Linked DNA regions of Homo sapiens. The protein of the gene in region 2 purifies or fractionates together with the protein of the main gene of each other region. This does not show direct contact. Each region holds a gene or a part of one and is shown on either strand. Other genes may lie near its edges. The genes, in order: GLS and CFAP45.

Region 1 (11,494 bases), on a different chromosome or scaffold from region 2:
CCTCCAAGGATTTTATGACAGAGGTACTACTGTTATCCAAAACATAGTATGATTTCTGGTACATACTTAGAAGCTCAACAAATTTGTTATTTGTTCAAAAAAATGACTACCTCTGTCCCCATTTCACAGATTAGGAAACAGAGGCTCAGAGGTTAAGAAGCTTTCCAAGGTTACACAATGGCAAAGATGGATTTTTCTGAATCCAAACTACTGCTACATTATACTGGCTCTCTAACTTACTAGCTTGTTATTACTTTTATAAGGTACAAACAAGTTTTCTAGGTCTTATCCTGACCTAATACCATTAAACACAGCTTAACAATACTCACCACCTAATATTCAAAGAAAAAACTGAACCAGCTGTCAAAAAATCAGTGGATAATAACATACCAATTATTTACAGCAAATGGTTGGTCAAATAAACTTCAGATAGTGGTAGTTTGTCACTTTAAAAAACTGCAGAATAAGCTTTCTATGTATTTATCACACAAGTAAATGGTATTTGCTTTGCCTAAAAGCTATGTAAATAACGTAAAATATACACTTTTTTAGCTTATGGCACATAGTGAAAAAAAATTAAAATGACCACGTTATTGCCAAAGCTAGCAAAAAAAGACAAATGTTTACTTGCTTTTAAACAAGAAATTAATTTTTATCTATAGGGGAAAGAATTTAAGCCAGCCCTAAAAAATAAGCTCACAAAATAAGCTGTCAAAACTGATAAAAAGAAATTACTACCTATTTCAGCATTTGAAACCTCAGATTTTGATCTGAGAATGAATTCGCTTCAACAGTCTGGCGAACAAACATACTCAAATATTCTCCTCAAACTTTCCACAAGGCAGAAACTACTCAAGATCATTCATGCCTTAACCCCCCTTTTCTCTCCCTAAATTAATTCTTTCTGGTAATTCTTCACAATAATGTATTTTTCATTAAAATTCAAAAGCTAAAAACTATAGCTTTTGGTAACTATATAGTAACTAGGAAATCCTTGAGAGAAGTATTTAAGTTTTAATGACAAATAGGATTATAGCAATCTTTCAAATCTTATCATCAACAATTATTAATAACCCAAATGAATCCTCCAGATTCCCCTGAAGAGAAAAACATAAAATGGTTATGATATTCAGCAATTCAAATAGGATATAACAGAAGATAATCTGAAGGAAAATCCTTATTTCTCACCTTTTTACTTCTTCTCCAACTTATACTGTCTCTCTCGTTTCCTTTCTAAATGCTGCCTTTAAGATCATCTTACCATCATATTGTTTCTTCTTTTACCCATTCCTTCCCCTACTTTAGCCTTTAACTGTCTTAAAAAATAATTTCTTAATGAAAAAGAAGAAAAATCCCATGCCATGTATGACATCATGTTAGACATCATTTACAGTCTAGAAGAAGTAGGAGACATGTACATAAAATGAGGAATTACAAGAATAGATCTATGACATCCAGACTTTGGAAAACTACTTCACTGTGGTCTAATAAGGTCAAGCTTTTTTTTAGATGAGGTGGAATCTGAGCTAAACCTGAAAGATGGGTAAGAGCTGGAAGCATGGCAACAGAAAAAGATTTCTGGCAAACAGACCAAAGGGATGAAAGTAAGCATTCACTTAGTGTTTATAAAGAACAAAAAACAGCTAGAGCACAGAATGTGTGAATTAAGGTGCCTGTTTCTACCTATAGGCTATTATATGAATACTTAATTTTTTAGTGTTGAGAATATATATATTCTGAATATATATATCTGAGGTAAATGAGGAGACTACCTTCCAAAATCTACATTAAGTTTAAATGCAGGGCCAACTTCTGCAACATGAAAAGAGGAACTGTCTTTGCTTACCCCACTGACCAAATTAGTTTCCCCATACCAAAGGGGGAATTCATACTCCTCAGTCTGGTATGCAGTTCTCTATAAATTAGTTTTACACTATTTATTCCTAACTTAATCCTTATAATTCCCCAATGTAATTGACTAGACTCAATGACCTGTAAATAAGTGCTATCTCATCTTTTTTTTTTTTAACCTATCATGCCTTCTGTGTAAAACCTTCCTCTCCCTAAATCTTAAGCTATCAATGATCATTTCAATTGTTTCACAGGACTTTGCCCCCACCAGATTCTCTATACTCTTTAGCATTCTCTGGTATCACTAAGTTTTGTCCTTTTCTTGTACCACTTATTATATGCCAAGCAATAGCAATAAAGATCCCTAAAGTAAGGTTGTGGTCTAGGAGAAATATGACTAAAGCCATGAGACAAATACTATGGTAGAAGTGTTTTTCAAAAAGTATTTTATTAGCAAGTACAGATGAAGTATTTAATTTTGCCTTAATCGGTAGGGGAAATCAAGAAAGTTTCTAATCTGTAATTAGGAGCAACAAGGCAAACTCATCTTCATCAGTTCAAAAATCTTATAAATAAAAAACTATCAAATGAAAGGAAGAAAATAAAAAAAAAATCCTTACTAAGAACTACAAAATGAACAGAGGAAAATAATTGAAACCAACTGTATGGTCTTATTTTGTTAAATAACATTTCATATTACCTAACCTCCCCAAACTATAAAGCTTCAAGGCTGGGGTCAAGTCTTTCTTATTTTTTTTTTCGCATAACTCTTAAAACACATAGTATAGTATGGTAAACCTATGAGACAATGAAAAACTGTCTTTTCAAGTGGGATTAAAAAAAATGAGGCCTAATAATAACACAATACAAAAGGATTTGCTAGTCTTTATGCCTTCATTTAAGAATAATGATCCTTCAGATGATAATTCAGGGTTGTTTTAAAATCAGTGTATCATTTTGAATTTATAGTGAGCTGACTGATAACAACCGTCTATCAACACCAGCAAACTGGCAGATTAATAAACCTGTTAGATAGAAAGTTGAATTGATGGTGGCTGACCATATAGTAAAATAGCATATGAGAATGAATGTTAAGTCTAACAAATTGACAAATTCTAGTTATCATCCAAGTGATTTTGCCCCAAGGCTAATCATTGGTTGAATTTAAAAATAAAAACTTACATCTTTTAAGGCTTTACTGCTAAAAAAGGACTCTCACTTTCTATCATATTAAAACCCTATGAGGTAAATTAAGGTGGGTTAATTGTCCCCAGTGTACAGATAAAAGAGAGTCCTAGAAGAGTGTGGTGGCATGCACCTACAGTCCCAGCTACTTGGGAGACTGAGGCAAGAGGACTGCTTGAGCCCAGGAGTTCAAGGCTGCAGTGAGCTATAATGGCACCAATGTACTCCAGCCTGGGTGACACAGCAAGATTCCATTTCTAAAAAAAGAAAGAAAATGTTAATTTAAATTTTAAATTTAAAAAAAATTTTGTTTTAAGAGTATCCAAGTCAAGCAGAATGTCCAATGTCACATAAATCTTAAGTGGCTGGACCAGAATTAGTCCTACAAAGCTCATCCTTTGTTCCCAGTTCCAGACTCTTCCTGCTCTGCCACCTCATGCTCTCAGTGGTTAGCACTCTATTTTAGGAATAATATCTGTAATTCTTAAACAATAATAAATTTCTAACCAAAATGCACATAAGAGAACTAAACTGGTCTGCCTTGATAAAACTGCATCCTGTCAAAGCAAAGATGAGATTATATTCAATTAGTGCTGCTGTTTTGACTGGACTTTATAGCACAAATTCATTTAATAGCACACCAAAGTAAAAAGCACAAAAGCCACTTTATGTGAGGAAATGGTCAGGCTGCCCCTGTCAGCTCATGGTAATTTGTCCATACGTTTGCACAACTTCAGAAGTTTGACCCAAAAGGCAGTCTGGCTGTCTCGGGTGGGAAGACTAGGATCTGGGGAGATCAAGTCTATAACATCCAACTCTGTTAGTTTTTCCAATAACTCATTTCTTCAGCCAAGTATCCTTTAATATATCAGTCTAGATGGAATAATACAGATACTATATGAATTCTGTCACTGCAATCACTCTGATACCACTATAGACAACTTGTTCAGAATAACTAACATATATAGGTAGAAGTTAATGAAAAACTTCAGCCACACATAAGGAAAAATGAAACAGCTATGAAAACGGAATGGGCTGCCTTCTAAGGGAGTGAACTCCCTTGTGAAGGCAGTATTCAGGTAGAGATGAATAACAACAACCTATAGGGAGTATGTAACAGAAGAGAAGAAAGCAGCAGCTGGGGAGAAGGGTTTGTAAGATCTCTTATAATCCTCAATCTAAAAAAATTAACTCTATAAATTGAATTAGTTTGCTGCTAATAGATGAAAAATAAAAAATCAAAACAAGTCCTAATACTGTCTGAACTTGTTTAGGTCATTTAATATCTGCGGGCAGCTTATATAATACGTAAAATGAGCTGGAATTAAATGTTCTTTAAAGTTACTTCCAAGCTTAATTCTCAGTTTTTGAGTTGCTAAAAATAGATGTCCTCCAAATCACTACACTAAAGTGAGATCATAAACTTTATTCACTCACAACTTACATACTTTTATTTTACACATTAGCATATTCATCTGGGTTCTAAAACTAACAGAAGTATTTAATGCCACTGAACTAGGGAACTTAAAAATGGTTAAAGTGGTAATTTTTATGTTATGTATATTTAACCACAATTTTTTGAAAAAGCTAAGCAGAACTGGATACAGAAGGTAAGAGTGAAGGAGGATAGCTAAAGTAGAGACATGAAGAACAGTCAACTGATACAAGATACAAAAATCCACAAAAGAACAAACCCACCCTTAAGAGTACTGGTTAAAGCAGAACCAATCAAGGCATGAGAGAACTTACCAATAAATATATTTTAGTGTAGGGCTACGCAAACTACAGCAGGGACCTCCTCTTTTTGTAAATAAAGTTTTATTGGAAGACTGCCACATCTATTTACCTATTGTTTGCAGCTATTTTGCTACCACCACTGAACTGAGAAGTTGTAGTAGTGACTAGAGAACCCCAAAAGCTGAAAATATTTACTATTTGGCCTTTCAGGGAAAGTGTGCCAGCACTTGTCTTACAGCATCACTGTATTACAGTGCAGTATAATAATGCATCCTTAAAATACACATAAGTTGAACAAGAAATGTTAAACTCTATTGATTACAATGTTTTAATATGGCAGAGAAATATGTAACATTTACTAGGGAGATATATCAAGCATAGTTTTAAATTTTTAAAGTTTGATGTTTAAGGGTACCAGTGAATATGATTAGACAATGCTGATAAACAGGAGCTGTGCAAATTCATACATAACCTATTTTCATACTTTTCTTTCAATGTAATGGTGCTTACTGTTCTTATACAACCAGAATCAGGATATTAGAAGAGTAGACAGTAGAGATTTACAAGTTCAAAACTTAACAGATGTGGTTCCTTTGATTTTCAAAACTATGGAATGTTTTTTACTGTTTTAGACGTTTCCCACTTATAATGGGGGGGAAATCTTAAAAGTAACAAAAGGAGGCAGGAAAAACAATGCTCGTTCTCATAAACCACAACTGCTAATGTCATTTTGGCTTATTTCCTTCTATTACTTTTTCTGAGCTTTTTAAATAGCTTGAGATCATACTGCATAGAAAATTCTGTATTCTAACTTTTGGCCGTTATAACATTACCTTATATCCTAAAAAGTACCTGCAAACATTTTAAATGACTAAATAAGAGACCCTCATATGAATGTACCACAATTTACTTAACTATCCCACTAATGTTGAACATGCGTTTTTCTCCATTTTTCTCTAGTATGCATAACACTGTACCAAAAATAATAGGAAATAAATCTTTCTAACACTTCAGTTTATTTTGTGAACTTAGATTCCTAAAAAGGTATGAATACTTTGTAAGTTCCTCATAGAGCTTAAAAATTGCTCTTCAGAAAGTTTACCATCAAGAATTGAAGGACGGGTCTATGTCACTCAAAATATCCTCATCAAGAAGACAATTTTAAAAATCTTTTTTAGAAGCCTGTACCAGAAATAAATAGGCAAAAATATATTTCTTAATCCTGAAAGCTATCAGTTTTATTCATTATGCAACATCTACAGTTCTATGTTTCGAAAGTAATGCTTTTACTATAAACATTTCTTTATAATGAATTTAACATATCAAGCAGAGGACACTCCCAAATGGAAGTCAAGGTACATTAACATTTTGCTTCTACTACGTTGTAGGGGGTCAGAAAATCACTAAGTGCAGTGATGACTCACAAGTAATGTGTTTCATAACCAAAGCAATTTTGCACCTGAGTAGATTTCAGGGTAAAACTGTACTAACAGTATCTCTATGTGAAAGCTATGTACCTCACTGAGAGATATCAGTAATTAATAACTATTTTTATAAATACATCTGTTTACTCACCTTTCTTAAGCATTTCTCTTACTAGCAAATGACTTAAAGGTGAAAAGGCACAGACAGGCAACTATAAAATATAACCTTAATTTATATAGGATTTAACATGATTGAGCTCCCTCACACAAATTCTATAATTAGGCTTTCAGCTTATATGGTCATAATTTTTCTTCATTTCAAATATCACAAGAAGGAAGTAGTACAGCCTTTTACTATTACTTTCTTTTTTTTTTTTTTTTTGAGACAAGAGTCTCGCTCTGTCACCCAGGCTGGAGTGCAGCGGCATGATCTCGGCTCACTGCAACCTCCACCTCCTGGGTTCAAGCGATTCTCCTGCCTCAGCCTCCCGAGTAGCTGGGATTACAGGTGCCCGCCACCACTCCTGGCTAATTTTTGTATTTTTAGTAGAGACAGTGTTTCACCATGTTGGCCAGGCTGGTCTCAAGCTCCTGACCTCAACTGATCCACCTGCTTTGGCCTCCCAAAGTGCTGGGATTACGGGCATGAGCCACCACGCCCAGCCTGATTTCTTTTAAATAACTTTTTAAAACTCAAAGAAACCCACAAATATCTTCAGCAAATTTCTTTCAAAGTGACATTTATCTTTGGACTAAAATAGTGCCCCCCCTCCCTTTTAGCTGGCCTACATATTGCCTCATAAAAAAGGCTGAATTCTATTTGGTAGTCATTTCATGGATTAGCTGACTTTGAGGTAGGTAGACTTCTCTATAAAAGAGTAAGGTCTGGAAATATGCAGCTAAAAGTCCAGGAGACTAAACCCCTCAGAATCTAATTCTTGTTCTTTCAGTGAATTTCATCCAAATATTAATAAAACTATAAATTAACAGCATGAGTTTGTTAATTACAGATCATGGACAAAGTTATCAATGACTGATGCACATTTCAATATAAATATTAGGTCACAAAAATGTTATGACATATAGTTATTGGTACCTTTTTCACTTGCTTTTAAAAAAACAAAACTGGGCTGGGTGCAGTGGCTCACGCCTGTAATCCCAGCAATTTGGGAGGCCGAAGCAGGCGTATCACAAGGTCAGGAGGTCGAGACCATCCTGGCTGACATGGTAAATTCCCATCTTACTAAAAATACAAAAATTAGCCAGGTGTGGTGGCACGTGCCTGTAAGTCCCAGCTACATGGGGGGCTGAGGCAGGAGAACGACTTGAACCCAGGAGGCAGAGGTTGCATTGAGCTGAGATCACACCACTGCACTCCAACCTGGGTGACAGAGTGAGACTCCACCTCAAAAATAAATAAATAAATAAAAATAAAATTTAAAAAAAAAAACTAAAACTCACTGATAATCATCACCTAGAAAAAAATTTTTAATAATGAAGAAATCAAAAATAACTAAGGGGCTGCCTGAGAAGCCCAAAGGAAAAAATTAAACATACTTTCCACCTTGATTTTAGCTTAAGTGAATTGTAAATATGTTAGCTTTTAAAATTAAAACCAAATGCAATACTGAAGGATCATAAAAACATGTGCCCCCATTTTAACAGAGGTTTTGTCATTCAGTTCTAAAACTTAATATTTATATCTGCCAAATACTAACTCAACTTCCTTACTAGTATTGTTCAATCTACCCAATTCAATGTTCGCTGAAATTCATAAGCATTTCATCTTACTTTGAAATTCAATGTTCAGACCAGGTGCGGTGGCTCACGCCTGTAATCCCAGCACTTTGGGTGGCCACAGCGGGCAGATCATCTGAGGTCAGGAGTTCAAGACCAGCCCAGCCAACATGGTGAAACCCCATCTCTACTAAAAACAAAAATTAGCCACGCATGGTGGCGGGTGCCTGTAATCCCAGCTACTCGGGAGGCTGAGGCAGGAGAATGGCTTGAACCCGGGAGGCAGAGGTTGCAGTGAACCGAGATCACACCACTGCACTCCAGCCTGTGTGACAGAGCGAGACTCCATCTCAAAAAAAAAAAATTCAATTTTCAGAGTATACACCTCGATGATTTTCTTTGCCCTTCATTGTCCATAACTATCAAAACATAAAGCTGAACTATCAAAACATAAATCCATACTAACTAAAGCTAGCTGAAATCATTTTTGCTTGCATTTTTACTTTTAAATATAAATATATTTTAAAGCATGCTTATTTGTGTAATTACAAATATTTCTGAATGCCACGACTTCATGTAGATATGCAAACATCCAACTACCACATCACAGCTATGCAGTTTTTAACAGAAACTACCAAACTGCCTAAAGTAACTGAACTAATAATTTATACTTCTACTAGCAATGCTAGAGTTCCTATTTTCCCAATTACTTGATTTAACATCTGCCAATCTGAGAAGGGGAAAGTGACCTCATTGTTGTTTTAACAGAATACTTTCAATATTGCATCCTGTATGAATTATCTATTTTCTAACAACATACATATGCTGGTATTTTTCCAGCCCAATTTCTGTTATGTATCTCTTTTCCTTTCTCATTAAAAAATAAATGTCCAAATAAAAAAACTTAATAATGCCCCTTACCTCTATCCCTCTGACTCTTCCTAGGGACCATTCACTAAGATAGGATACATACTTCTGGACTTTATGGAAATAAGTATAACCAGCTTAACAGAGAAAAGTATGATAAAAATGTCCATATGGGCAAGTGCTGGCATAAACCATAACATAGTTTGTGACTTTAATATAATGCTCATTCCAGATCCTGCTGGTTTTCTGGAAGAGAGTGCTATTTTCAAATTAAAACTCTAAAATTACTCTCATAACAGTACGCAAAATAGGTTGAATTGGAGAAAAGAATGAATATCAGGGTACAGACTTAAAATTTGAAGTCATTGAATATGTGGCGACAAATTTAAGAACAGAGCTTTGGATTAAGAGGTGAAGTATTACCTACACAAAGATGAGAGTCAAAGCTGAAAGAAGGGATACGCTGTTGAGAAGGCAGACAAGTGGGAAAGGGACAAAGGCCTCAGCCTCAGGGTTTTTACCCAGTGAGGAAATTCAAAAAGAACTAGGAAAGAAGAGAGAACAATTTTGAAAACGAAGAGAGGCAAGCAAAGTTGGTTTTCAAGATAACAGAATGAACCATAACAAAATTAAATAAGATCACTAAAGACAAAACTGAGCAAAGATCATTAAATTTTTCTATGTGATATTAAGACGTTCGTATCCTAAACCACACTAAAGTTGCGTGATGGAAACAGCATAGTCTAAAGTGACATTAGTTCAAAGAGTTTGTGAAAAAAAGGTAAAGTAACTTGCTTATATCACGCCTCCTTCCAGAATATAAAGTAAATAAAATATAAACTCAGGACCAAGGAAAGGAGGAAACGCAGATATCCCAGCCATGTGAACTGATGAAATTGGTGTGGTTAAGCATTAAATTTACTCTGAACTTATTTATCAGCAGAGCAAAAGGTAAACAGTGCAACTCACATAGTTTCATATAAGACAGATGTATAGCAATTTCTCAAGATAAACATTTTTGTGGAAACTAAAAAAATTAAAAACCTTCATGTGCAAGCCTGAAATTCCAAGGCCAATCTCTTTAACAGGCTTTACAATAATGAAGAAGCAATGTTTTCTCATTTATTTAATAAATAGTTATGTGTCATTTAACACACGCCAAATATTGTTCTAAGCCTTTTACAAAATGTTAATTTAATTTTCTCATGGTTATTTCTTTTAATAATACTACATAAAATCTGGCACAGTCCTGAGTGAGTGCTAGCATACCAGGTGGACTGCTGACTGAGGGATGACCTATGCTTTGCAGGCTAAGCATTAGAAAGGATAACAGGATCAACTGGGAGCTTACCTCCCAGGATAAGAGAAATGTTTGTCACATAAAGGCAAAATGAAAGGAGCCAAAGAGGGAAAGCTACATTTGGAAACCAGATCATTAAGGAAATAGAAACTTTAACCAAATTAAAAAACTTTCTTCACAACCTTGAGGCCCTTGCTAAAAGGTGATTTTTTATTAAAAAGGCAATGAAACCAGAAACTTCTGGACAAGTGAATCACAGAAGAAGCTCAATTTCCTGTTTGACAAAAGAGGAAAAAAAAGAGAGGCACTAGAGCCACTGCAGAGACACAGACCTGAAGACATAATTTTACTAGAATGCAGTTCCCATCTTGTAGCCTTTAAGATGAACTTTTAAACGGTTGTGACTGCATTTTGCAATTCTGTACCTTGGGCACTTGCATGTAAACTCGTTACTTCCTTGGTAAACCGGATGATGTTAAAGTAAAAGTGAGTCCCAGATGAGATTAAATTATCATTCTAGTCCCTAAAACATGAGAGAAGTACAAATTTAACAGAAGTATAGCTTTTTAGAACTTGAAAGGATTTAAGTCATCTAACCCAAGATATTAAATAACCTGTCCATGGTCAGGACGCTATTTTGTGGCACAAAACCAACATCACAAAATACCACAAATTTCGCCCATCATCAAGTGATTTTTTTCAAATAATCTTTTTCAGTCTGGGAGAAGAACTTTAGAAAAGTTTCTGGAAGGTCCCAACTTCAATTACAGGAAAACATCAAGCAGGCGTGAGATTGAAATTATAACAATGTTCTCACTTTCAGTTTGACTTAAGGAACTCTAGAGCTGGAAATAGCAGCAGAAATAAAAGGGAAGCAAAACAGGTTAGAGTGTCAGCGTACAAAGCCAGAAAAAGAGTAAGGTATAATGAAAGCAGATCCGTAAATTTTTACCCATTTTGGGAAAACAAAGTGGTCCATTTGTATTACACAAGACAAAAATATATAGGAGACTGCTTTGCATATTGTTTAAGAAAAACCAGTTTTGCTTTAAGACTAAACTACTGTGCCGTACACATACAGGATGAGTCAACATCCTATCACAATGAAGTCACAAAACCTACTCAACTCAGATTTTTCACTGAGTTAGTGTATTACGTCACATTTCATCTTGGCTATTTAACTTTTATTTCTAAAAATCTCCCCATCTCACGGAAGACCTGACAAGCCAAAGCTGGTCCCTTATGCAAACAGGTGGTCTATACTGCGTGCCCCATCTTCTCGGCCACATGACCGGATTCCTCCTAATCTCACTTCTGAAACATTGTTTCCGGTGCCCCAGATGGCTCTACACGTGCCTGAGGTAGCCACTCCCGAAATATAAAGAGCTCTCTG
Region 2 (11,494 bases):
TCGAGCACTCCATCTGAATGTGGCTCTCATACTCTTTCCCCTCAATTCTGATCCTAATATGTGTCTTCTCCCGTTCTTCCAGCCTTTACTCATATGTCATGGGGTCTATGCTTCCAAGTTTATTGACATCCCACTAACACATAGGGAATCACTGACAACATTGCTTGTACACCCTGGGTTTGTTTGTTTGTTTGTTTGTTTGGCTTTTTACTATTCAGCTAGCTTCCTATGATTACTCTGGGAAGAATTGGGAGGTGGTAGGATTTCAGAAACTCTTTATATACTGGAAGGTAGAAGGTGTTTTATCAAGTGGGGTACCCCTCTTGGACAAACAAATAAAGAAGGAGAATCTCAGGAAGAGTGAGCCCTGGAACCAGGAGCTCAGGAGAAAGGAGGCCAACCCTTGAGGTCCTTCCTGGGGGAGGGACTTTGGTCTGGGCTCATGAAGCATATTCATGTTTAGGGGGCACTTGTCAAATTGTTTCGGTGACACCACCCATCTTGGGGGTTGTTTAGGTGGAGGTTGGACTCTGGGAGATGTGGACCCGGGGTTTCTAAGACACTGTGGCACTGTTCTCTCCAAGAGGAAGGCGGCAAATTGTGGAACAGATGGAAAAGAACCAGGAGGAGCGATCGCTGCTTGCTGAGCAGCGGGAGCAGGAGAAGGAGCAGATGCTGGAATATATGGAACAGCTCCAAGAGGAAGATCTAAAGGTAACAGGCCAGACAGACAATGCCACGTTTCACCAGCTGCAGCATCAAAACCCTTCAAGACTCTGGGGTTTCAGGGTGTTGACTGATTTTCTGCCAGGCACATGCTCATTTCACAACATCATCACCGTCAACTTTTTATTGCCATGTTAAATATTTATTTCACCATGGTGTCACGCTGCGGGATGAGCAGTGATTTGGATAGATATTGTCCCTTCCTTCCAAGGACTTGAGGTCCAAGACTGACATATCACTGTGAATAGACACATAAAGGAAATATATGGCTGCATGCTTTGCACAAGTAAACATAGGGATGTTTTATAGTCTTCCTTCAATCACCTAGGGATATTATATACTTTGTAGATGAACAGTAGCAATATCTTAGTTCCAGACTCCCTGCTGTTACTTCACTCAAAGTACATAGCATCCCATTGCCATTAACTGTGTTGTGAAGCCAAACCTTTTCTTCCTGTTAGTCCAAATAAAATTAGTAAGCATATTTATTGCAAAAGAAATGACAACATACCTGCCCAAACTAAGAAGACTTAAAAAGTCATCTTCTGTATGCCTTCTCTGGGCTGTAACAATGTATAAAACCCTTTAGCACAGTGAGGGACATGGCAGGCACTTGGATAATTTATTTTTTTCCTCAATTTTTTATTTTGAAAAATTTTGCACACACAGAAAAGTTGAAAAAATTGTATCACACCCATCAACTCTTCACCTAGATTTAATGATTGTTAATCATTTACCTTAGTTGCTTGTTTCTTTCTAGGTGTGTGTGTATATATATATATATATATATATATATATATTTTATTGTTAAACTATTTGAAAGTAAGTTGCAGATATCTTGACACTCTGCCACTAAATGCTTCAGCCTGCAGCTCTGAAGAACATGGACACTCTCTTACATGTCAACAATACCATTATCACCTCCTCCATCAAAAACTTGAATTCAGTGATTCCATAATATCATCTAATAGTTAATCCACATTCACATTCCCCAATTGTTCCAAATATGTATTTCTGGCTCTCTTGTTTCCAAACTAGACGTTAATCAAGGTTTGCACATTGCATTCCGTTGAGTCTCTTTAGTTTGTTTTGATCTAGAAGAGTTCCCCCATTCATTCATTCATTCATTCATTCAGTTCTTCATTCATTTTTATAACACTGATATTTTGAAGCATCTAGGCCAGTTGCCTTTAAGAATATCTCACATTCTGAATTTGTATGATTGCCTCCTCATGGTGCCATTTAACTTGTGGAACACGTATTCTTTTACGATTCTCTCCCTCCCCTGTGTTTATGAATTGTCAAGTTGTCATCAGCTAGTGCATTTGATGGTGGTGAGTGACAGGGGGACGTGAAGAGTGCTGCAGGTGGGCAGACTTGTAATTATGAAGCCTTCTCATCACATCTGCAGTGTGAGGAGCTGCTAGAGAAGTGCAATGAAGATCACCTGGGTAGTTGGGAAACTGAAGGGGCACACAGCTCTGTGAACTGCATGAGAAGGAGAATAGCAGGGTGAAGGCAATGAGAGACCTGGCCAAGTTACTCCATTTCCTGGCTCAGGGGAGAGAGAGTGGGAAAGGGCCAAGAAGGAAAGTTATGGGGCAAATATGCAAGGTAGTGGGTGAGAAGTGAGGGCAGGAAAATCCAACTAGATGTGGGGAGTGGGAATTAGTGGGCTCACTGAGGAAGTTCTAGGAGTCCATGAGTCAGCACCATTATGTTGATGTTGTGTCATTATCCTTTTAATGTCCTTCTAACAGGCACTCCCTGAGTCTCCAGGAAGTATTATTGGGCAACTTTAGCAAGGAAACCTGTGCCTTCCCAGCTTTAGACCTACTGTATCATCTCATGGTGGTACGAAGGGCAGCGTTTCCCACCTTGCTAACAAAGGGGGAAAGAGTGAAGGGAATTTATCTGGGGTTGCTTTGGAAGGGCTTCAAAAGAAACAGGGAAAGTCCTTTGGTGTCTTGGAATTGAAATGAGCCAACAAAAACAACAATCCAAAAAGTAAATAAATAGGGAAAGAAGTAAATAAATACATGATTGTATGTATGTCATACATCAGAAATCAACAGCATCTTTAGCTTTGAGGGCCAGTGAGATTAAATGATGTCTGGGATACAAATAGCAGGCCTAAAATCAGTGAGAAGCAGTTAGGAAGGAAAGGAAGAAAGGGAGAAGGGGGAAAAGGAGCGAGAGAGTTGGAGGGGCAGAAAGGGAAAAGTGGAGTGAGCAAAGAAATGAGTATGGTGAGAGAGAGAGGGAATGTCTGTGACTCACGCACCACATGGACCTCAGAGGCAGAGAGTTGCCATACCGCTCTGGTTCAGAAGCCTTCCTGAAGGAAGAAGCCTTGAACTGGGCAGTGAGCCAAGCTGGCAGAGAGCCAGCACTACAGGAAGACACACAGGGAGAGTTACCTTGGTTAGATGAATCAGGGCAGCAGCTGGGCTGAGGAAGACCTGGAAGGCCAGGGAGGGATTTAGTCTTTGGAGAAATGGAGGGAGCTGGAAACAGTGTGGGAGGTGGGGTGAGTTAATCAATAGAAGAACTTAAGGAGTCTGAGATTGATTGGAGGTGATTGGGGGGCCAGCTGTTCCCCTAATTCCGATGCCCCTCTGCACCTGAGAATGTGCTTGGCTCAGAAGTGGTCTGATCATTGAGAGCTGTTGAAGGCTCAGGTCTGGGAAAGGCAGGGGGATCCTTCCTTAAAAACGACCTTGTTCACATTGGTACTCTGATCTCCGTCAAATGTTTCCCTGTGTCTAAGAACTTTTTTTCTTTCCTTTCTCACATGCCTCTCACTTTGGTCCTACCTTTCCTGCCTCATTTATCAATGGTTTATCGAATATTTGCTATTTTCCTTGCATTGGGCTACATGTTGTTGGGGAAGAGAGGATGTGTGACACAAGGTCCCTTGTCCTGTAACTGGGGCAGAGCGAACACATATGAAATGAGTGGGGACCTGCAAGGCAGTGTATGATCACCTTGCAAGAGGTGTGTCGCCACCTTAAGTGCAGAGAGAATTTAGAAATGGAGAGAGAATTGAAAGTTGAGGCAATCAAGCAAGATTTCCAGAGAAGGTTGATACTTTAATTTAGACAGAACAGGTTTCAAAATTTTAGCTCTGGAGATTATAAGCTGTGTGGCCGGTGGGGAAGTCACTTCAATGCTGGGCCTCAGTTTCTTTATTGGAGCAAGAGAGATAACAAGGCCTACCTACCTTTTAGGATTTTTGGACATATTTAGGTATTAGAGATAGTCTGTGTACAGTGCTCAAGAAATAGAAAGCACTCAATTAAGGCAATATGTATTATTTCAGTCGTCACTATTGACTGGAGAGTGAAAGTTAGGTTTAAATGGGAGAGGAACATTGAAGGCAGGAGAAGCACCATGAGCAAAGCCACAGGGGTAGGATTTAGCAAAACATGTGAGAGGCAATTGTATGGAACTTTAAGAGCTTCTGCTTCCTGAAAATATAGAGATCAATAGCATCAGGGGCTGCCACAAAGTCAAGTTGGATGAAGACTGTAAATAGGCCATTTGGTTGAAGAGGGTATTTATGACCCTTGAAAAAACAGCTTTAACAAAGGATAGTTGTGGACACTAGACTGCAGGCAATGCATTTGCCCCCTCCTCTGTCTGCATCTCTCTATCCCTGGATGCCAGTGGCTTCTTGTCTTACCTCTTTGTACTCTGAGGCTCTCTTTCTTTTGCTGGCAGGACATGGAACGAAGGCAGCAACAAAAACTGAAGATGCAAGCTGAGATTAAGCGCATCAATGATGAAAACCAGAAACAGAAAGCAGAACTGCTGGCTCAGGAGAAGCTGGCAGACCAGATGGTGATGGAGTTTACCAAGAAGAAGATGGTAGGGACTTGGTTTCTGGGACCTTTGGTTAGGAATGGAATGTCTGTCACAGGGAGAGGAGGGCCTGAGAACTAAGGGAACTCCAGTGGAAGGCAGCCGCACCTTCATTCTAAGATGCACATCCTTAGTTCAAGGGCCTGGCTTCTTTGTCTCTTCATCTTAGCCAGTCCACTTGTTCGTTAACAGAGACAGCCTAGAAAGGACAACCAAATTAGCTTTAACCTCATTAACACCTTTGATTAGAAGTTGGGATGAGGGCCATATGCAGGCAGAAAAGAAAACTGAAACTATTGGTGAAAGTGAGTTTTTTTGTGGATTTGTCATGACTTGCGTAATTATACCCCCGGTAATCATGAGTCAGCGGTTACATAAATTTCTTGTGCAAATGCCTATATTGGACATCCTGTATTGGGTGCTAGACTCAGAAAATAGTCTTCCCCCATCTCCCACCAAAGAACCTATATGACAGAGCAAATGCACAGTGGAGGAGAGAGCCATACCTGCAGACAGTTGCAGATGGATGTAGCTCATGAATGTGTCAGCTCATTCTGGGGCAAAATTGAGTAATAAAATGATTGGGATCTACGGGGATTGGAGAGTAGAAGAAGGCTTTTAAGAGTGGTATAGATAAAGTGAACATGGATTTATGTAAAAAGAGGAGGAAGTACTCAAGGTGGCAGGAAAGTTATTAAATTCTTCATGTGTTGATCTTGTCTGCCCTGCTAGTTTTGAAATTCCATGATGACAGAAACACATTGTACTTCTCTATGCTCCTCTATAGTAGTGATTTTTAAAGAAGGCCAGGGGGAGGGTGTGAGTATAATTTGAATGGCATATTTGGTACACCTATATGTTCTGAATACAAACCACAGAAAATGAAGCTCAGCGAAGCTCACTTATTGGCTTTAGTATTCTTATTGGATGCTGGGGACACTCTATGCAAGCAATAGAGTGAGAATGCAGGTTTGGGGACATAGATGATTCCTACATAATAACAATCACATAACTATCATTTAGTGAGCACCTAGTCTGTGCATAGGCTCCGTGCTAAGTGTTTTACACGTGTTATCTCTTTTAATCTTTACAATAATCCTGTGAAATGGTCACTGATGATTCAAAATATACTGGATGCTTCAATATGTGTCCAGTCAGACTAGGCTGAAAATACCTAGGATAATGCTGTACCATTGGAACTCAACCACTATTTTCCCAAGTGAATGAAGGTGGGGATGATGAGCTAATTCTGTGTAGGAGTTAGTGCACATATTTTCTGGCTGCAGCAGAGGGTTGGTAGTGGATATAATAAGAAATGAGGGTGGTGAGATGACAGAGAGCTAAGAGCAGTTGTTGGGGTGTCTTGGACATTGAGTGGAGCTGGAAGAGTGGAATGATAAGGAGTCGCCATGAATTTCTAAGCAAGAGAGGAGTATATCTTGTCTTTATCATGGAAAGGACATTGTCAAGGTGTAGCTGGGAGAGGCTGGAGACTGGCCACGGAATCAGGCACTTGGGCATGTCCACAGTCCACCGTAAGTATCTACGTATATCACAAGCCCTTACCGACCTCACGGTGGTATCTATTCTTGCAGCCAGGGCTGCCCCTGCAGAGCTAAAAGCAGAAATTGGTTGTAGAAACACCCAGAGTTCCCTGTCCTGTTATCTAGGGCAGGGTGGACAAAGGAAGCAGCTTGACAACAGCCCCGTACAACTTACAGGGACAACTCACTGGGCTTCACAGAAGTCTGGGCAGGTAGAATGAGGGCAAGGAAGGTTTTTTTTTTTTTTTTTTTTTTTTTTTTTAGATGTAGTCTTGCTCTGTCACTAGGCTGGAGTGCAGTGGTGCGATCTCAGCTCACTGCAGCAACCTCTGCCTTCCGGGTTCAAGAGATTCTCCTGCCTCAGCCTCCCGAGTAGCTGGGACTACAGGCATGCGCCACCATGCTCAGCTAATTTTTGTATTTTTAGTATAGACACTGTTTCACCATGTTGGCCTGGATTGGTTTGATCTCTTTACGTCATGATCTGCCTGCCTCAGCCTCCCAAAGTGCTGGGATTACAGGCATGAGCCACCATGCCTGGCCGGGAAGATTCTTTATAAATGTCACATTTGCCTCCAACCTGCACCATTCATCTTACGATTGCTCAAGAATGGCGTTGGGAAGCGGGCTTGGGAAGCTTTTAAGGATATACCTGTTTTTTCAGAGAGGTGGAAAGGGAGCTAATTTTGGTGGTTCATTCTTTAAGTATCTGGTAACCACTGTGGGACTGCCCAAAGCATGGTTGGCTCTTTGCCCAGGGACTAATGAGATAACCTCCACCTGCTGTACTTTACAAGACAGGCACAGGACCAGTTGTTTCTTGGCCCAGTAGCCTTGCAACTTGAAAATTGTCTATGACATAGTGGAAGGAGTGTGAAAGCCAGGGTCAGGGTACCTGTGTTCAAATCCTGTTAGGTAGTTTACTTCCTGTGCAATCTTGGGCAAGACCCTTGATCTTTCTGACCATCCGTTTCCTCATCTATAATATCTGTCTCAGGAAATGTTGTGAGGGCTCTCCAGGATAACACATAGGAAAGTGTTTTGTAAACAATAAAGCATTTTATAAATGCTAATTGTTTTATATTCATGCATTGCTAAATTCATTTTACCTTATTTATTTATTTATTTATTTATTTATTTTGAGACAAGGTCTTACTCTGTTGCCCAGGGGAATGCAGTAATGCAATCATGATTCACTGCATCCTCGACTTCCCAGGTTCAAGCAGTCCTCCTATCTCAGCTTCCCGAGTAGCTGGGACTATAGGCACATGCCACCATGCCTGGCTAATTTTTAGATTTCTAGTAGAGACAGAGTCTTTCTCTGTGGCCTAGGCTGGTCATGAACTCCTGGGCTCAAGTGGTCCTCCTGCCTCAACCTCCCAAAGTGCTAGGATTATAGGCATGAGCCACGGCACCTGGCCTTATTTTGTCCTATTTTAAAAGGAGTCAGGAAGTGGTAGGGGAGATATTGGAAAGTCTGTTGTAGGGGTTTTGTTTCTCTCTGCAAGGCTGGGGCAATGGCAACTATTCTACAAGGCCTTTCCTTCCGGCAGGCTCGAGAAGCAGAGTTTGAGGCTGAGCAGGAGAGAATCCGGAGGGAGAAAGAGAAGGAGATCGCACGCTTGAGGGCCATGCAGGAGAAGGCCCAGGATTACCAGGCAGAACAGGTACCTGCTTAGTCTCGACTTCCCTCTACTTTTCCCACTCCCTTGCCTATCCATCCCTTTGACAGCCTGTAGAATGGCCTTGAGGGTGGAGATGCGGAGGAAAGGATGCAAGTTACCTAGACTTCAGTAGTCTGAGAAGGAAGGGGTGGCCTGCTCCCAGGGCCTGTGTCAGCAGGGATTGGGCAGTGCAGCCTGTGCTTAAGGTTCAAGAGAAAGTTTTTCGCTGCTCCATAAAGAAGAACTTTCAACCTTAACCAACCAATGAAATGTGTCACCAGGGGAACCTGTGGTATCTCCATCATTAGCAGTTTTTAAAATTAGAAGCAATTTCAAGACTGCCTGGAGATGTCTGAGGTACAGGGAAAGAACTGGGATGAGTGGGTTGGAAGGACAAGATGACCCCTCAGGTTATCTTCTAACCCAAAGGTTTGATGACAGGATTCCATTTATCTTTTCCTAGAATAACTAGCTGCCAGAGAAATTCATGATGCTTTTCAAAGCAGACTGTCAGAGTCTGTAAGTAGGTATCTTCTTAAAGCCACTTGGTCTGTACTTCCAGCTATTTTGTGCCCTCACTGGTCCCCTGCCAACATTCCCAGGATGCCTTGCGGGCCAAGCGCAACCAGGAGGTTGCAGACAGAGAGTGGCGCAGAAAGGAAAAGGAAAATGCGCGGAAGAAGATGGAAACAGAGGCTGAGCTGCGAAAAAGTCGGCTCGAACAGGTGGCTTTCAAGGAGCACGCTCTGGCTGTTCAGGTGCAACGGGACCGGGATGAGTTCGAGAGGATTCTTCGGTAGGAGGGGCCTGGGAACCTTGGATTCCTTTCCTTGTACTGTAGCAGGGATGGTCCATATTGGATAGAGAGAAGCTTTCTGGCATGTTAACAGATGCTCGTCGATCTTGTCTGGGTTGGTGGGATCATTATAACTAGATGGATGATTGAAACTTTTAAAAATCACTTGAGCCAAGAATTATGTGATTAGAGAATTGGGAGATAGCACCTGGAATTGCTTAAGGAATTGGTGATGACTGGGATTATTTACCCTGGAACAGTAAAAGTATAAATAAAGGTAAAATTCTGGTCCATTCTGCTGCCCTCTGACCCATGTGCCCCTGCAAATTGGGGATGAAACTGCAAGAGGAGTGGTTTAGGAAAGATAGAGAAAAGAACTTCAGACACTAAGGGTTGTGAGTCACTGGAGCAGGACTTTAAGGGAGCTGTTTGCCGTTCATTTGACAAATATATATTAAGCACAGAAATGCAGGGCTCTGTGCTGGATGCCATGGAGGACATTAGCAATTAACAAAACACTGCTCTTGCCCATTCCACAGGAAAGGTATTAGAGATTTGTGTTTGGATGGACTGCACCTACATCAATCCATCTTTCTTCCTTGGTAGCTATTTATCCTTTTACTTTTGTTTTCCCTTTTGGCTCAATGATAATTTCAACACATAAGTGGAAGCTAAATGTTCACATCTCTCACTGTTCTGCTCCCTCCCCAAAAGCAGTCAACAGTCACAGCTCCCATTGGTTTCCCTCTCTGCTCTGTTTTCCACCAGTCAGACCTGGTCCCTGGGGCTGTTCTCCTGGTCTAACTGGGAATGACTCTCTTTTTGCTCTGGTTCAGACTCTACAACATTAGAATTTTTCAAAAGGAAACAAGCCAAGCAAAATTCGAATTGAAGGGATACAAAATTATAGACATTATGCTCAGATAAGTAGAGATTAAACAGTATAGCATCACTTTCTTGGTTCATATGCTCTAAGTCCTTCCTCTTGGCAATGGGTAGTTAGTGGCATGCCAGACCAGGCTACCCAGACCCCTAGTTAGAGGCAGAGCAGGTCTTCGGGAGCCTCTATCCTTACGAGAGCCAGATTTTTGGCCTTTTATTGGACTGCAGGCCCCAGCATGTCCCCCCTGCCATGATACCCTTTGGCTCTGTAATTTTCTCTGCCCCCAGGGTTGTGCCATGGTCACTGGACACCTAGTGAAGAAAGTAGCTTCCTAAATGCCCCCCAAGATTCTGCCCTTGGGCTACAGACTGCCTTCCAGATGTCTCCTCTCTCCTCCCTGGCCTCTATGCCCTTGGACATCTGTGTTGCTGTTAACAGGCACTAATAAATATTAATGAAATGAAATTTAAGTCCTACTTTTGCTGCCGACCCATTTATCTTTCCTTTGCATCATTTGCCTGAAGCATATGCACTAGCCAGTTATTAAAGCTAGACCAGCCTTTTTGGAGAAGTTCAACTTCACCTATTGTTGTAGGTTAGTATCTAGGCCTAGTGTCTCCAGGGCCATGTGACCACCATGTTTGGTGTCTTTACTCAGAAGCATCTCTGCCACAGCCCAAATCCAACTTTCTCTGCCTCAAAAGCACAGCCTCCTCTATGGCCTATATGTGGACTTTTGTTTCTGGACAGAGGGATGTCCATACTTCTCAGCCTGTTGACTAAGCAGAGATAGCTGTCTTCCTCTACCAAGTGGTTTTTAGAAATGTCTTGGAGCTTTTGAAAAATACGATGACCAGGCTTCACTTCCTAGATTGTGATTTAAATGGTCTGGGATTAGGCCCATGCATGAGTCTGTTTCAAAAGCTCCCAGGTGATTCTAAAATGTAGCTAGGCTCTGTGATCACTGCCCTAACCCGATGGAACGACCAGGTTCATCCTCATTTGGATTTTCAACTGCCTGGCACCACCGGGGCTCTCTAGTGACACATACAAGTCCCCCTTTTCCACACTTACCCCTTCACTCAGAAGAGGGTGAAACAATAGAAAACTGTTCTAAATATAGGAAAACAATGGCAAGGCAAAGAGGAGAGTCCCCCTGCTATCAGAGATGTGTCTGGGAAGTCAGGATTTGGTGTCTAAATACAGAGGGCTGAGGAAGCCAACAGTATTCTTCGGGTAAACTGGGAAGTCTCTGTAGAAGGCACAGAATTTTAGGAGATGTTTGCATGATGGAAAGAGTTTCTGGGAGTGGGGAGGATGCCGCATGTATGGTGGATCTTGGAAGAAAGCTAGAGGGAAATGAGGAAATGAAGCAGTGTTGTAGGTACCTTTTGTTGGGGTATCGGTGACTCTAGGGGAGGAGAGCAGGTGAGAAATTCCTGCCTAAGATGATTTTACATTTCATTTTTTAAATTATGTTGAGAACAAAATTAGATGTTAGCTTAAGAAGGCCTATAAATGCATTTTTTTCTGAGATGCGAATGCATTTCATTTGAGTGTTTTCTGAGCCTTTCCTGTTGCCATTAGTGATTTTCTCCCTGATGTCAGGGTCCATCAGGTATTTTTGTGGAAGAGGTTTCTAAGGGAAATTTGGAGAGGTGGATCAGGAAGAGAACTGAGCGATATCAGGCTGAGCTCCTTCCTTCCAGTAACCAGGGTGGAGCTAGCATGACACTTTATGCATCTTTTACATTTCCAAGCATAGAGGGAGGGAGGGAGGGAGGCAGGAAAGGAAGGAAGGAAGCAAGGAAGAAGGAAGGAAGGAAGGAAGGAAGGAAGGAAGGAGAAGAAATCTCAGGATAAGCTGGAGAGGAGTTATACATTGTTATCAGGGAGAAGTAGGAACAATAGTTCCCAGTGGGTGAAACCCTGGGTGTAAGACTGGTTGCATAATTTTCAGGGCCCAGTGAATATTGAGAATGTGTAGCTTGGGCAATGTAATGAGACTTCATCTCTA

What was found.
Region 1: the proteins of CFAP45 (region 2) and GLS purify together in Homo sapiens (affinity purification with mass spectrometry; 2 studies listed by BioGRID and IntAct, with this or other methods). This does not show direct contact.

Annotation. Positions count from the first base shown.
Region 1 is NC_000002.12:190,882,002-190,893,495, reverse strand, and holds part of GLS (glutaminase kidney isoform, mitochondrial isoform 1 precursor), read right to left. Parts: intron 1-11,494. UniProt on the Homo sapiens protein: Catalyzes the first reaction in the primary pathway for the renal catabolism of glutamine. Plays a role in maintaining acid-base homeostasis. Regulates the levels of the neurotransmitter glutamate, the main excitatory neurotransmitter in the brain.
Region 2 is NC_000001.11:159,873,656-159,885,149, reverse strand, and holds part of CFAP45 (cilia- and flagella-associated protein 45), read left to right. Parts: intron 1-584; coding exon 585-714; intron 715-4,449; coding exon 4,450-4,596; intron 4,597-7,687; coding exon 7,688-7,801; intron 7,802-8,400; coding exon 8,401-8,594; intron 8,595-11,494. UniProt on the Homo sapiens protein: Microtubule inner protein (MIP) part of the dynein-decorated doublet microtubules (DMTs) in cilia axoneme, which is required for motile cilia beating.